Homo sapiens: one gene and its partner. The protein of the gene in region 2 interacts with the protein of the main gene of each other region in a pairwise test. Each region holds a gene or a part of one and is shown on either strand. Other genes may lie near its edges.

Region 1 (7,505 bases), on a different chromosome or scaffold from region 2:
AAAAAGGATGATATCTGTTGCACAGACTTCTTTATCCAGCTAAAGAATTGCATTTGCCATTAGTGGCAAATGACTCAATGTTGGCTTAAGGGATGTAATTGGAAGTATTGTGTGCGACTCCCAGAAGTCTCCTTAAATTGTAGGTGGCTTGCACTTCTCTCTTCCCCCCTCCTCAAATCCTGTTGCCTGAAAGATGGATACAATGGCTGATGCTCTTGCAGTCATCTCAGACAAGGAGTTTGAAGGTCACAGCATAGACATGGCAGGGCGGTAAGCCAGAAAGATTCTTGACTTACCTCCAAATTCCTTCTACTGGAGAAAGAAATAACTTTCTATCTTGTTTATGCTAGTGTTATATTGGGATTTTCCATTATACATAGTGATTGGAAACTGACCTTTGAGTTATTCTGGAAGGAGTCTATCAGCAGAGACAGCTTCTTCTGCAGTTCCTGCAAGTCCCTTGAGATACTCTGGGGCTCCTCTTTTGCCATTCTGAAGCTCACTTCAATCTCTTTAGGGATGAATTATCCTACCAGTAAATTCTCCAGTGCAGCCCGCGGTCCAATCTCTCATGTCGCTCTGTCTCTTGCTGTTACCAGAGGAAACAAAAGCCGTTAGTGGTCTTCATCCATCTGGTTCGACGAGAGCTTCTACCATCCTCATACCTTGATGGTGGGCATGCAGACGGAGGGTAACCTGGCAATATTCACAACAATTTCAGATTGCACACACTTCAATCCAGGAATTTATATTCCAGGAACATGATGGAAATAATCCAACAGGTATCTCAAAATGTACTAAAAGGCTGTGCATTGCATCCCTGTTTATAACATATAATGACTAGCAAAACATTGGAAAGTAGCTAACTGTATTTCCATTAGGAGAAAATTGGTTAAATAATGATAAATTCAGTCATTAAAATGATAGTGTGACTGTTTAGTGATGTGAAAAGATGTGTATGATACTTTTAAAAAAAGATGATAAAATGTTAATAGTATTATCTCTGACAGCTTATGTTTATTTTTTAGCTTGACAAAATGCTGAAAATATACAGAAAGCAAGAAAGCTGAACACACTATTTCAAATCTCATTGCCTTTTATTCTCCCTAGAAAGCTTTCCTTGTACAACAGTAGCCTTGACCTGTTTCTCTTCTTTATTACTGTACAGGTTGGCTCCCAATTCCATCATTCCATACATCATCATCTACTTACTTGTGGGTAAGTCTATCCCTGCTAAGGAGAACTGCACCTCGGGGGCAGACCTCACCACAGTAATTATACTCTAACTAAACTGCCTGGAATTTTGAGGGGTGTCCCAATCTCATACAATTTTTACTTATTTTTAATAAAGGCAATTGGTTAAATTAGATATATTTTTTAACCCTTGTTGAGTTTTCAAATATAAAAAAAAAATCATTCTTATTTTATATTTCCCAGAACTGGCTGGACACAGAGATATCTTTTCCATTTCTCCCTTTAAACTGACCTGACCTACAGTACAAATGCTTAAAAGATTGTGTCCACGTGGCCAAAATTAATTGAGAGATCCTCACATTTATTTATCATATAGGGGGTAATTTTATCTACTACTAAGCTGTACAGGGTCTAGTATGCAAATTAAAGCACATTTTAATCATCCCAGCTAGACATCCTCTGCTACTTCCCTTTTGTAAAACAAGAAACCCTTTGGAGGGGAAAGTTGAGGAGGGGACTAATCCCACCACCCCACATTCTCTCTTTGAAGCTGCCTCTGGCGTAGGTCTTGAACTTGGGATGTTCCCAGCACTCAGTTCCCATAATCTCATCTCTGCAGCAAGCAGAAACAAGCGGAGTTCCCCTTACAGGTCTCCTTTGGCCTGGGAGCCTCAAGTGCCACCCAGACCGGTTTGGGGAGTCCGATGAGAGAGTGCGTGGGGCGAATGCCATCGGCCACAGCCTTCAAATGCGTCTACCTGGCCACCAATTCCCAGACCCCCTGGTCACTCACTCCTCGGAGGGGCCTCCCCAGGCACGGAGCTGTCTCCCGAGAAGGGAAAGCGAGAACCCGGCGCGGCCAAGGAGTGCCCCGCCTTCTTCACGCCTGGGGGACTGGGCCAGGCCAACACCAGCTAACCCTTTCCCCTTCCAAGGCTCCAAATAAATCTCCTGGCCCTCCCACCCCCGAACCTCCAGGGGAAAACGGCTACCTCGAAAGTTCAAGCTGGGAGGAGGGGTCACATCTCTGGTTGGGGGATGGGAGCTACAGGGCGCCTCGAGCTCACACTGGCCGCCCCTCCCCATCCGGGCCCAGCCTTTCAGCGTTCAAAAGCCAGGGAGACCCAAGGAGAGGAGGAAGGGAGTGAAATGCAGGTGGAGAGGGGGTCCGCGTCCCAGAAGGCACAGAGACTGAATAATGGGAACTCAGAGGGGAGTCGAGTACTTAGTTATTAATTTGGGGGTAAAGAAGCCCCCTTTGATACTTGCAGATCTCTCTGCAGCGATGGGGAAGGGGACCTCGGTGGAGAAGAGGGGCTGGGTGGTGAGGAAGGCGCCCGTTTTCAATAATCCTAGGGAGGTTTGCCTCGACGTCTTCCCCAGGTTCCCCAGAAAGGGGCACAGTCTCGGGGTGTGGTGGTGCTAGCTACCATTTTACCTAATCTAGTGGTAGTGTGTGTGTGTATGTGTGTGTGTGTTGGGGGGTGGCGGGGTGAGTGTGCATTTAGGGGTGGGGAGGAATCGTGTCTCCTCGTGCGCTCCCAGCCCCGTCCCGGCGACTCATAAGCAGGAGACGCCCCTTACACTAACCCCGGGGCAGAAAGCTACGGGCGTGGGACCCCGATAGCGCGCTCACGCCGTCGCCCCCGCGCTCCTCCTCTGTCCCCGCCCGGCGAGAGGGGTCTAGCCACCCGGGGCACCCGGACCCCCACCCCCAAGCTCCGAGCTCTCACCTGCTCCTGACCGCCGAGCAGCCCCCACCGCGTTTGCAGGCGAAGCGAAGAGAGGCAGGAGGAGGAACAAGAGGAAGAAGGAAAGAGCGTCCCGAGAGGGAGCCAGAGCCGCCTGCCTCCGCCCCCTGGCCCGGGCACCGCCCCTCGGCTCTTCTCCTCTGGGCTCGCCCCGCCCGTGGCCGGAAGGATCCGGCAAAGGCGCGCCAAGGCCCGGCGCCCAAGGCTTTGCAAAGCGCGCTCGCTCCCACTGGCTTTCGGAGCCACTAGAACAAGCCCTGAGAGGTTGACAGCTGAGGAAACTGAGGCTCAGAGAGTGTCCCTTCCCACACGACTGGCTTGGAGTGAGAAAGCTCAGACCACCTTCAAGACAGGCAGACTGGCAGCCGAGAATGAGTTTTCCAAGGGTGTCAGGGTTTCCCCTCCTGTATGCCTAAAACCAGCTGCTCTGGAACGTCTCTGGCGCTCAAGACACACACGTGATGAAGTATCACCCTGGCTGGAAGTTTTTAACCATGACTGCTCAAATGCGAATGTCATAAGCCAGTGAGATCCTTTCAGATGGATTGGATGTCCATTTTACACATGAAAAAGTCCAGGCTGAGAGAGACAAGATAAATCAATCCAAATTCCTCGGTTTGCATGGATCCAAGTCGGAGCAGGAGCCCCTGTTTCCCCTGGCCCCAAATCTGCCCTATAGAGTAAGGTTTCTGAATAGTATGCTATTGACATTTGGGGCGGAATAATTCTGTTTCTGAGCTGTGGATTGTAGAATGTTTAGCAATATCCTAGCCTCTACCCATTAGATGCCAGTTACAAGAACCGCCCCCCCCCACCTCCAGTTGTGTCTCAAAATATTGCCAAATGTCCCCTGGAAGGCCCCATCGTCCCGAGGTGAGAACCACTGCTATAGAGCATGATGGCAACTTACTGTGTGACTAAGTAACCTCTCTGAACCATGGCTTCAACCATAAATTAGAGAGAGGGATAAGCCCAACCATTGGTCTGCTGTTGCACAGTTCTCAGCCACTTTCCAGACAGGGACCTGTGTTGACCGACCTCTCCTCTTTGCCTGTGGCCATAGCAACCTGGAAAATAAGTCTTTAGATAACAAAAAGCTGGCAGGGTGCGGTGGCTCACACCTATAATCCCAGCACTTTGGGAGGCTGAGGTGGGCAGATCACTTGAGGCCAGGAGTTCCAGACCAGCCTGGCCAACATGGTGAAACCCCATCTCTACTAAAAATATAAAAACTAGCCAGGCATGGTGGTGCGCACCTGTAATCCCAGCTACTCGGGAGGCTGAGGCAGAAGTATCGCTTGAACCTGGGAAGTAGAAGTTGCAGTGAAGACACTGCACTCCAGCCTGGGCAACAGAGTGAGACCCTGTCTCAAAAAAAAAAAAAAAAAAAAAGAAGCAATCACAGGGTTGTAGTGAGGACTGGTGCAATAGTGTGGCTGTGGCTGTCGAGAACTTAGCACCTATTGAGGCACAGAGTAGGGGCTCAAAAATATTTGCTTGGGATGATGATTTATGATGATGATCACGACAATGATATGATAAACCACAGAATCCTGCTGTAATTCCACAATAGCAGAAAGAAGAGCTAATGGTGGGGATAGGACAGACAAGAATCCCTAAATTCTTAAGTTTTAGCCAATCTTGTCTGGCGTCATGCACTTTGTTCAGCTGCAAAATGCTGGGTTCCCCACCCAGGAAAAGATTGTGTGTGTGTGTGTGTGTGTGTGTGTGTTTCCTTAGATTACAGCCTTCCAATCATCATTCCCTAAATGGAAGTTGCTTTGGAAAGCTGAGTTAGGGTTTCCACTGGGATTTTTGTTTAAGAGTGCCATCTAGGGGCGTCTCTGTGAATCTTCAAATTCCTTCCACCTCTGGCATTTTTGGCTGGGCCAGCAGAGTTTTGCTTGTCTTTGTGTGATAGATGCTTCCTCCATCACATCATGTGTTCCTCCAGGGCTGGGATCCTAGCATCTCTCCATAGCATCAGGACTTGGCCCTCAAGGAACATGCAGTGGTTGGGTTAAAAAAATCCACGCGCAGCCTCTCCTATGCTTTCCCAATTACTTGCTGCAATGGACTGAATGTCTGTTCCTCTAAAATCCTAACCCCCAATGTGATGGGATTAGGCATGGGGTTTTTGGGAGGTGATTAGGTCATGAAGGTGAAGCCCTCCTAAATGGGATTAGTGCCCTTATAAAAGAGATCCCAGTGGCTCACACCTATAATCCCACCACTTTGGGAGGCCAAGGTGGGTGGATTGCTTGAGTCTAGGAGTTCGAGACCAGCCTGGGCAACATGGCGAAACCTCTTCTCTACTAAAAATACAAAAGTTAGCCGGGCATAGTGGCACATGCCTGTAGTCCCAGCTACATGGGAGGCTGAGGCAGGAGGATCTCTTGAGCCCAGGCAGTGGAGGCTGCAGTGAGCTGAGATTGCACCACTGCACTCTAGCCTGGGCAACAAAGTGAGACCCTGGCTCATTAAAATAAAATAAAATAAAATAATAAAATAAAATAAAATAAAATAAATAAAATAAAATAAAATAAAATAAAATAAAATAAAATAAGAATAACTCCCAGAGAGCTCTCTTACCCTCTTTCCACCATGTGAGGATACAATGAGAAGTTGGCAGCCTGCAACATGGAAGGGGGCCTTCACTGGAACCAGACCACCCTGGCACCCTGATTGTGAACTTCCAGCCTTCAGAGCAGTGAGAAATAAATGTCTCTTGTTTATAAGCCACCCAGACTTTGGTACTTTGCTATAGTAGCCTCCAAGGATTGAAACTGTTGCTCTGCTTAAACAACTATTTTAGGCCTCAGGAATGAGCTGCCAGGAATACCAGCCTCTGAATAAGAAATGTGTGAAATTTTTTTAGCAACAGATTAAGACCCTAAACTCTTGATAACAAGAGGCAGGGGCAACTTGGAACCTTGCTGACCTCTGCTCCCCATGTTGGCAGATTTGGCAAATAAAAACACACGACACTCAATTAAATCTGAATTTCAGGTAAATAATGGGTAACTTTTTAGTACAAGTACAAGTACAGCCCATGTATTGAATGGGACATGCTTATACTAAAACTTTTTTTTTTTTTTTTTTTTTTTGAGACGGAGTCTTGCTCTGTCTCCCAGGCTGGAGTGCAGTGGCGCTATCTCGGCTTACTGCAACCTCCACCTCCTGGGTTCAAATGATTCTCCTGCCAAAGCCTCCGGAGTAGCTGGGATTACAGGCATGTGCCGCCACGCCCAGCTAATTTTTGTATTTTTAGTAGAGACAGGGTTTCACCATGTTGGTCAGGCTGGTCTCAAACTCCTGACTTTGTGATCCGCCTGCCTCGGCCTTCCAAAGTGTTGGGATTACAGGCATGAGCCACTGCTCCCGGCCCTAAAACATTCTTTTACCTGAAAAATTGTTTGACTGAAACTCTAATTTAACTGGGCACCTTCTGTTTTGTCTGGCAGCCCAATTGAGAAACAAGGCCGGGCATGGTGGCTCATGCCTGAATCCCAGCACTTTGGGAGGCGGAGGTGGGCAGATCACTTGAGGTCAGGGGTTCGAGACCAGGCTGGCCAACATGGCAAAACCCCATCTCTACTAAAAATACAAAAATAAGCCAGGTGTGTTAGCACACGCCTGTAATCCCAGTTACTGGGGAGGCTGAGGCAAGAGAATCACTTGAACCCAGGAGGTGGAGGTTACAGTGAGCCGAGATCATACCACTGCACTCCAGCCTGGGCAACAGAGCAAGATTCCATCTCAAAAAAAAAAAAAAAAGAAAGAAAGAAAAAGAAGATTGAGAAACTTGAAGCCTATATCCTTTCTTAAGAATTATCCAACACAAAGTTGTCAGACAACAAACAATTCTGGTACAGGTGAGGTGGCCTGGGGGAAGTCACTTTCACTCTCTTTGGCAGATACTTTATTTTCCACCTTTCCTCAGATTACATGTAGGTTTTCGGTTGAAGCCATGGAACAGATTTCATAACCAAGTTCAAGCTTTCCTGATGACCTAGCTGTGTGACTATGGGCAGGTTAGTTTAATGTATCAGTTTCCTCAATCATAAAACTTGTGAAAATACTGATATTTATATTCTAGGTTGTTGAGAAGATTCAAAGACATGATGTCTACTAAGTGCCTAGCAGCAGTCCCAGGGCATAGTATATGCTCAATAAGCGAAAGCCATTAGTATTGTTTTGATAGTTTTAAACACTAGTAGACTTAAAACACACTAAATTTCAGATGGTAGCATACCTCCTACTCACACACAGGCCATAGGGTCCATTAGCTCCACATCAGGACCATTCTAATTTTTTTTTTTTTGAGACAGAGTCTCGCTGTGTCACACAGGCTGGAGTGCAATGGTGTGATCTCAGCTTACTGCAACCTCCACCTCCTGTGTTCATGCAATTCTCCTGCCTCAGCAACCCAAGAAGCTGGGATTACTGGTGCCTGCCACCACGCCCGGCTAATTTTTTGTATTTTTAGTAGAGACGGGGTTTCACCATGTTGGCCAGGTTGGTCTTGAACCCCTGACCTCAGGCGATCCACTCGCCTTG
Region 2 (7,014 bases):
TAAAGTATCTTTAAGGTCTTAAGGAGGGTTGTGGTTGGGAAAATCCCAAGGAAGAACCAGTGGAACTGTGGAAAGCAAGAGATTACAACAATTGCATGGGAAGATTTAGGAGTTTTTAGCTTATCGGGGCCATAGATAAATGTTTAGGGCACTGGGCCATTTCTCCTCACCTTTAATACAGAGAAAATATTACACCTGCCTTTGTACAGCAGCAGTTAACTCACAGGGAACCTGAATAGTGGCTATTTTTTCCTCTCCCCATCAGCAACTGTTGGAGGAAAAAGCACAAGCTAGAATCTAGGTAAATCTGGGTAAACTTTTATGTAAAGGCTGAGGAAAATAAATTCCCACAATGCCAAACTACTATAGTAGTGGTTAGCAAGTTCCTGGACCCAAGATAATAAGACACCCCTCTTCTTCAGAACCTTGTAGGGGTAATGACTACAGGCTCAATGTCTCAGGAAGTTATCTCTCAAAAGGTAATAAACAAAGCCCAACATGTAAGTGGATTTTGTATATACGTTCTAACCAAATGCTTTCACAAATGCCACTTTTAAGATAAAAACATTTTATACTGGGGGCAAAAGCACTCATATTTATTTTAGTTCATAACTTCCCAGTCTTCAGTCATCCAAGTACCACTTTCAGAATTATCTTCATCCACCTGTACTATTTACCTAATATTGGTCTTTGAATTGACTTACTTTTCTTGTCCTTTATTTTTTAGCAATAATATCTGTGAAATCAGTTTTGAGATGTTAAGTTTTTCTCCTAATTTAAATTAAATGAACTTGTTTCATTCAAATATGTATGTGTGTGAAAATTTGGGGAGAATTTTTTAATGTTCATTTGCTTATCAAATTATCTTGCATATGTGACAGTACCAAAGTTTGGGAAACAATACCAATATGGTACATATTATTTTATTAAAAGTGCTCGCTGAGGGTGGGGGATAGAGTGGGTGATAAAGGGGATGGAATTTCCGCCATTTTGCCTATGCCTTCTACCTCACTAGCAGTGTTCGACATTCCTATTATGGGTGCTTGCACTGCACAGTATGTATAAGACCTCAGGCTTCACAACAGATTTTACCCACATCTAGGACAGGGCCCCCAATACATGCTCAAATGTGTCAATCCCAACATTTTTATAGTGCCACATAGTTCACGGTTGGGTAGGTAAAACCACCATTTTACAGATGAGGAAACTAAGGCTCACTTTCTCAATGTCACACTGCTAGTATATAGCAGAACTGGTACTTCGGTCTAAGTTTCTAGTATCTCTACATCACTATGCTTCATCAGTCTCCCAAAACCAACAAGACACAAGAAACCAGGGATATAGAAACTATCTATTCACTTGCTGCCTGGGTTCTAATCCTGGCTCCACCATCTACCAGCCATGTAAATTTGGACAAGCTTTGCCTTTCTATATCTCAATTTCCACATCTATATATTGTGGCTACTAATAGCATCTATCTCATAGGCTTGTTTTAAAGATGACAATAGTATCTATCTCATAGGATCATGTAAAGTGCCTGAAACATTGCCTTGTAACATGCTAAAAGCACTACATTAAATATTTGCTGTATTATTTATTGATTACTCTCCATGGACCACGCACTTTATACACATTACCTCATTTAAGCGTTCCAAAAACCTGTGAGATAGGTATTATTAGTTCCATTTTACCTTTGAGGAAATTCAAGCCCAGAAAGCTTGAGGAATTTTTTTTAATCCCTAAACGAGTAGGTGACAAAGTAGGGATTTAAACTCAGGCCCAATTCTAACAACTCTGTGAGACACTCAAGGAAGGTCACAGGCACCCCTGTGATAAGACCTAGGCCTCTTTCATATACCAACATAAGATATACTTCGATTTTAACCAGTTGCACGCAAAAAAAAAAAAAAAAAAAAAAAAAAAAAAAAAAGGCACTAAACAGATGTGATGGTTTTCAACATAGGAAATACCCGAATGTCCCATTACTTTAGGATATGGTCACAGGTGTCAGAGTCAAATACTGAATGAACCTTAATATATCAGAAATTGTAGGTACCGTTTAAGGCATTGCCTGATTCCTTACAATCTTAGCATGTAAGCAAATATCAGTAACATGGAAAGTGATTCAGAGTTTGAAAAGTGGCTGTTCCCCTGACTGAAGATCCCAACATCTCCAGTCTGGTGGCTGATACTTTTGCTCTGGGCTAGGCTTTGCCTTGGCTGAATAGGCATAGGAGGGACTGGTTCTCAAGCTCGCCCCCTGCCCCAGGTGGATGATCCAGGAAACTAAGCAGCAGGGAAAAATTATCTTAAGCTGTCTTCACTGGCAGAGAGATTCAAGCCAGCTGGGGCTTGTCCTTTTCTTTTGGAAGCCTCCTCCACTTGCCGAGCCAATTGCTCAGGTCTCCCTTCTGCCACATCGTTCCCAAAGTGACTCTTGAGACAGGGTCTCAAGAGATTTCCGTGAGCCAACGCGGGCAAATATCTGGGCTCAGGGCTCACTCCATCCCCACAAAACGTAAAGTAAGACACTGGTTCAAGTCCCATTCTGCCTAAAAGAAATAGGAAATGCCACCTCAAGCTCTCATGGGCCACCTACACAGGTAGATCACCGTGTTTCTGACACCTGGGCGCCAGGGAATCCCCACCACCATGCTGACAGCCAAGTGCGACTGTCCCTCCCCTTCAAACACTCCTTTCCTGGCTGCCCAACACCCGAGGCGGCTCAGACGAGGCGCAACCGCCGCCCGCCTGGCCCCAGAGAACCCTCAAGTCGAAGGGGACGGGGTCCCCGCTTGCCCGTCCCTCCAGAGCTCCGCGGCCCCGACTCCCATCCCAAAGGCACGGACTTGGCTCCTGCCCGTGGGGTAGGTCTTCAATCCCGAGGGCGAAGGCCGAGGCTGTGGCGAGAGGCAGGGAGCGGGAGGGGAGAGGCCGGCAGGGATTCGAACGACCCCTAAGAAAGGAAGAAGAGGACTGGGAGGGGCCGGGGAGTACCTGTCGAGACGGGACCCGCCGCTCCGAGTGACGCGCCCCGAAGTGCATTGTGGGGCCTGGGAGGGACCTTTCGGCGACGCTGCGGCGCGTCCAACGTGGCTCGCGCCCGCGGAATCAAACCACGCCCCCGTTCCCTCAGCTCACCCAGGCCAATCGGGTTCTGCAGGAAGGACACAACAACCCCCCAGCTCCCGGGGCCCTCCTTAGTCCCACCCGCTCCAGGAGAGATTGGCAGCTTCTCTCGCACCTGCGCCAGAAAAGTACAGCATCCTCTGATGACAGAACTACGTTGACTTCAGAAATAGGGCCAATCTCTTCCGCTCGCCGCCCTGTTTCTGCAGGCATTTTGTCTCTCACACGCGGCCCTACAGCAGACACTTATAAAGGGGACAGGGAGAAAAGCCCCCTCTGGGTGAGCAAGGAGAAGACCTGGCCCCGTCTATTCCCACACACAAGAAGGAAACTAACCATGGCAGAGAAGTGCCAGATGCTGACCCTGCGACCCCTTCCAGCCTTCGCATCGGTCATGCATTATTAAACAGGCATTTCCTGACTGTTTACCATGTGCCAAGCACCGTGTTAAGCACGGGGTTACAGGAGTGGACATAACACTTGATGGAATTTAAGGAGTAATTGGAGCAAGAGATATTAAAGCATAAATAGTTACAGAACTACAAATTGTCAGTATTGGGAGGGAAAATTAGTGGGTGCAATGATCAATTAATTTTGGACTATCAGGGAAAAGACTTCTGAATAAGTGCCTTTTAAGCGGCAGGCATATTGAAGAGCCTTAGAGAATGTTCCCCGCCAAGGAAATATTGTGTGAGGTTGTCGGGGCATGAAAGAACTTCTTGTGCTCTAGGAACTAAAAGGGAGTCAGTGTGGATGGAGTGTAGGGAGCAAGGAGAAACTTTGCCCGTTGACCTTAAGATATCTTCCAAAATACAGCCTGAAATCTGTAATGTGGCCAATAAGAGTCAGCATGGTCTGGCCCTTGTCTCATCTCAGCCCAAGGTCAATGGGCAGCTAATAAAGACTATTAAGTAGGATCCTATTTGCATATTTAAGAATCACTCAGGCTGTTTGTGGAGAATAGTGTGGAAAAGGGCAAGAAGGGCTGCTGGAAAGCCATTTGGAGGCAGTTGCGTCAGGCAAAGCCAGAAATGATGGGGCTTGAACTAGTGTAATGGGAGTTAGAGACAGAAAGAGGTAGATAATTTCAAGATATGTATAAATTAGAAATGGTATCCAAGGGACTTCATAACGGATTGGTTTGCCGGGAAGGGTCAACAAAAAGGAATATTAAGGATGACTCCTTAAGTAACTAGATGGATTAAGAAGCCATTTACTGACTCATGGAACACAGAAAGAGGAGCAAATGGTTTGGAATATGTTAAATTTGAAATGCCTATAAATGGAGATGTCAAGTAGATTTGGATATGTAGGTCTAGAGTTCAGAAGAAAGGCCTGAACTAACATAAATTTTGTCCTAGATATATACTCAACATAAATGTATTCATATATTCACCAGAAAACATATGTATAAGAATGTTCATGAAATAAATAAATTTTAGAATATTCTGACCAGGCGCGATGGCTCACGCCTGTAATCCCAGCACTTTGGGAGGCCGGGGGCGGGGGTGGATCACTTGAGGTTGGGAGTTCGAGACCAGCCTGGCCAACATGGTGAAACCCCATCTCAACTAAAATACAAAAAAATTAGCCAGGCATGGTTGTAGGCATCTGTAATCCCAGCTACTTGGGAGGCTGAGGTAGGAGAATTGCTTAAACTGGGAGGCAGAGGTTGCAGTGAGCCAAGATCATGCCGCTGAACTCCAGCCTAGGCAACAGAGCAAGACTCCTTCTCAAAAAAAAAAAAAAAAAAAAAGGAAGAAGAATATTCACATAGTAGAATACTATACAGGAAAGACAATAATCTACAACCATATGCAAAGCATGCATGAATTTCACAATCATAAAAATTGAGTGAAATAAGTCAGACACAAAAAAGATTACTATATGATTCCATTTACATAATGTTCAAAATAAAAAATCATATAAGGTAATAGAAGTAAAATATTGGTTACCCAAGGGTAACCAATAAGTTATAATTATTAGTGTTAATAATTAGAAAGGAGCAATAAGGGGCTACTGGAGATCTAGTAATGTTCTTATTGATCCAGGTGTTGATTACATGGTGTTTTCAATTAATGAAGATTCACTGGACTGGATATGGTGGCTTGCTCACACCTGTAATCCCAACACAGCATTTTGGGAGGCCAAGGAGGCCGAGACAGACAGATTACTTGAGCTCAGGAGTTCAAGACCAGCCTGGGCAACATGGCCAAACCCTCTCTGAAAATTGGCCAGGCATGGTGGTGCACGCCTGTAGTCTCAGCTACTTGTGGGGCTGAGGTGGGAGGATTGCTTGAGTCCTGGAGGTCAATATTGCAGTGAGCCATGTTTGTGCCACTGCACTCCAGCCTGAGCAACAAAGTGAGACCCTGTGTCAAAAAAAAAAAAAAAAGGAAAAGAAAAAGAAAAGAAAATTCATCAAGCTGTATGCTATATTTATGAAATTTTCCAGTATGTATTTTACTATTGAATAGAAAGTTTATGTTTTTCCAAATGTTAAGAGCAATCCAGCCATGAATAAATAAGTGATACCAGACTAAACCTTCCACTACAAGTAACGGAAAACTGGACCAAATCTATGAAACAAGTGTTTCCAGGCATTGGACAACTGGCATAGTAAAGTTGTGATCTTGGAAGGAAGGAAAACAAACAAGATGAGTCCCCAGAATATCCACAGATTTCTTTCTGGAGGTAAGCACAGGATAGAAGAAAGCCAAGCAGGGTTTGTTGAGGACACAGAAATTGGAATTAATAGAGATTGAGACAAATGATATTTGTGGGGCAGGGTGCCAGAGAAAGAGCTCCAGAAATATACATAAGGATTCCTGTGAATCTTTGGTATAACTTTAAGGATAGATTGTATGAGGCTGGTAAATAACAATTACTGGGGAAATTTAAGCTGAACAGCTACAAGAACTTGAATAGAGTTTGGAAACATTTAGGCTCTGACTGATTAGAATGGGAAATCTTATTAAATCTTATTAAAACCTGAAGCATTTGGTAAAGAGACCCTAAAAAGGCCACACTTTAAAGCTAAATTAGCCCAATAGTAAAGACTATTCTAAACCCACTCGAACAAAGCTGAAAAAACTGATTTGCAAGTAAATTAACTGCTTTCTTGAATGAAACTTAACAGTCTTTAAAGAAAGACAACAAAATTCAGGTACTTAACCATGTAATATATGCAATGCCTAGTATCCAATAAAAAATTACTACACATGTGAAGAAGCATTGAAACATGAGTCACAAATGGGAGAAGAATCAGTCAATAGAAACAGACCCAGAAATGACAAGGATGATGAAATTAGTTTTCAAAGCAGATAAGAACTTCACTTTTCTTCTTTAATTTTTTTTTTTTTTTTTTTTTAAGTTTTAGAGGGCATCAGCGCACTGGGGTTACAAGCAGGTAAGATAAGAACTTTAAAGAAGCTATTATAAATATGGCCAAGAATTTAAAGAAACATAAATAATGTGATAAATGAAAACCATAAAAAGAACCAAATCAAGCTTCTAGAGCAGAAAACTACAATATCTGAATTGGTAATTTTGCTCTATGGGCTTAACAGCAGATTATACACTGCTGAAGAAAAGATCAGTAAACAAAGTAACAGTGAAAAATAATTATCTACATTAAAGTGCAGAGCGAAAAAAAGTTTAAAATAAAATGAACACAGCCTTGGTGACCTATGGTTAATACAAAGTTATCTAACATGTATAATCAGAGACTCAGAAAGGAGAGGTGATACAAAATATTTGAAGTAATAATGGCCAAAATTTTCCAAAATTTGATAAAAAATATAAACCCATAGATTCAAGAAAATAAACTAGGCCAGGCACAGTGGCTCACACCTGTATTCCCAGCACTTTGGGAGACCAAGGTGG

What was found. Proteins that work in one complex are often made in the same cells at the same time.
Region 1: the proteins of SEC22A (region 2) and LDAF1 interact in binary tests that used the Homo sapiens proteins (3 or more experiments, as listed by UniProt).

What each region holds. Positions count from the first base shown.
Region 1 is NC_000016.10:21,154,169-21,161,673, reverse strand, and holds the start of LDAF1 (lipid droplet assembly factor 1), read right to left. Parts: upstream 3,001-7,505; 5' UTR 2,928-3,000; intron 2,350-2,927; coding exon of another isoform or gene 2,233-2,349; exon of another isoform or gene 2,215-2,232; intron 697-2,214; exon of another isoform or gene 590-696; 5' UTR 492-589; coding exon 396-491; intron 1-395. Other genes in the region: DNAH3 (dynein axonemal heavy chain 3), read left to right, coding at 2,233-2,349. UniProt on the Homo sapiens protein: Plays an important role in the formation of lipid droplets (LD) which are storage organelles at the center of lipid and energy homeostasis. In association with BSCL2/seipin, defines the sites of LD formation in the endoplasmic reticulum.
Region 2 is NC_000003.12:123,197,970-123,204,983, reverse strand, and holds the start of SEC22A (vesicle-trafficking protein SEC22a), read right to left. Parts: upstream 3,042-7,014; 5' UTR 2,998-3,041; exon of another isoform or gene 2,850-2,997; intron 1,896-2,849; exon of another isoform or gene 171-1,895; intron 1-170. UniProt on the Homo sapiens protein: May be involved in vesicle transport between the ER and the Golgi complex.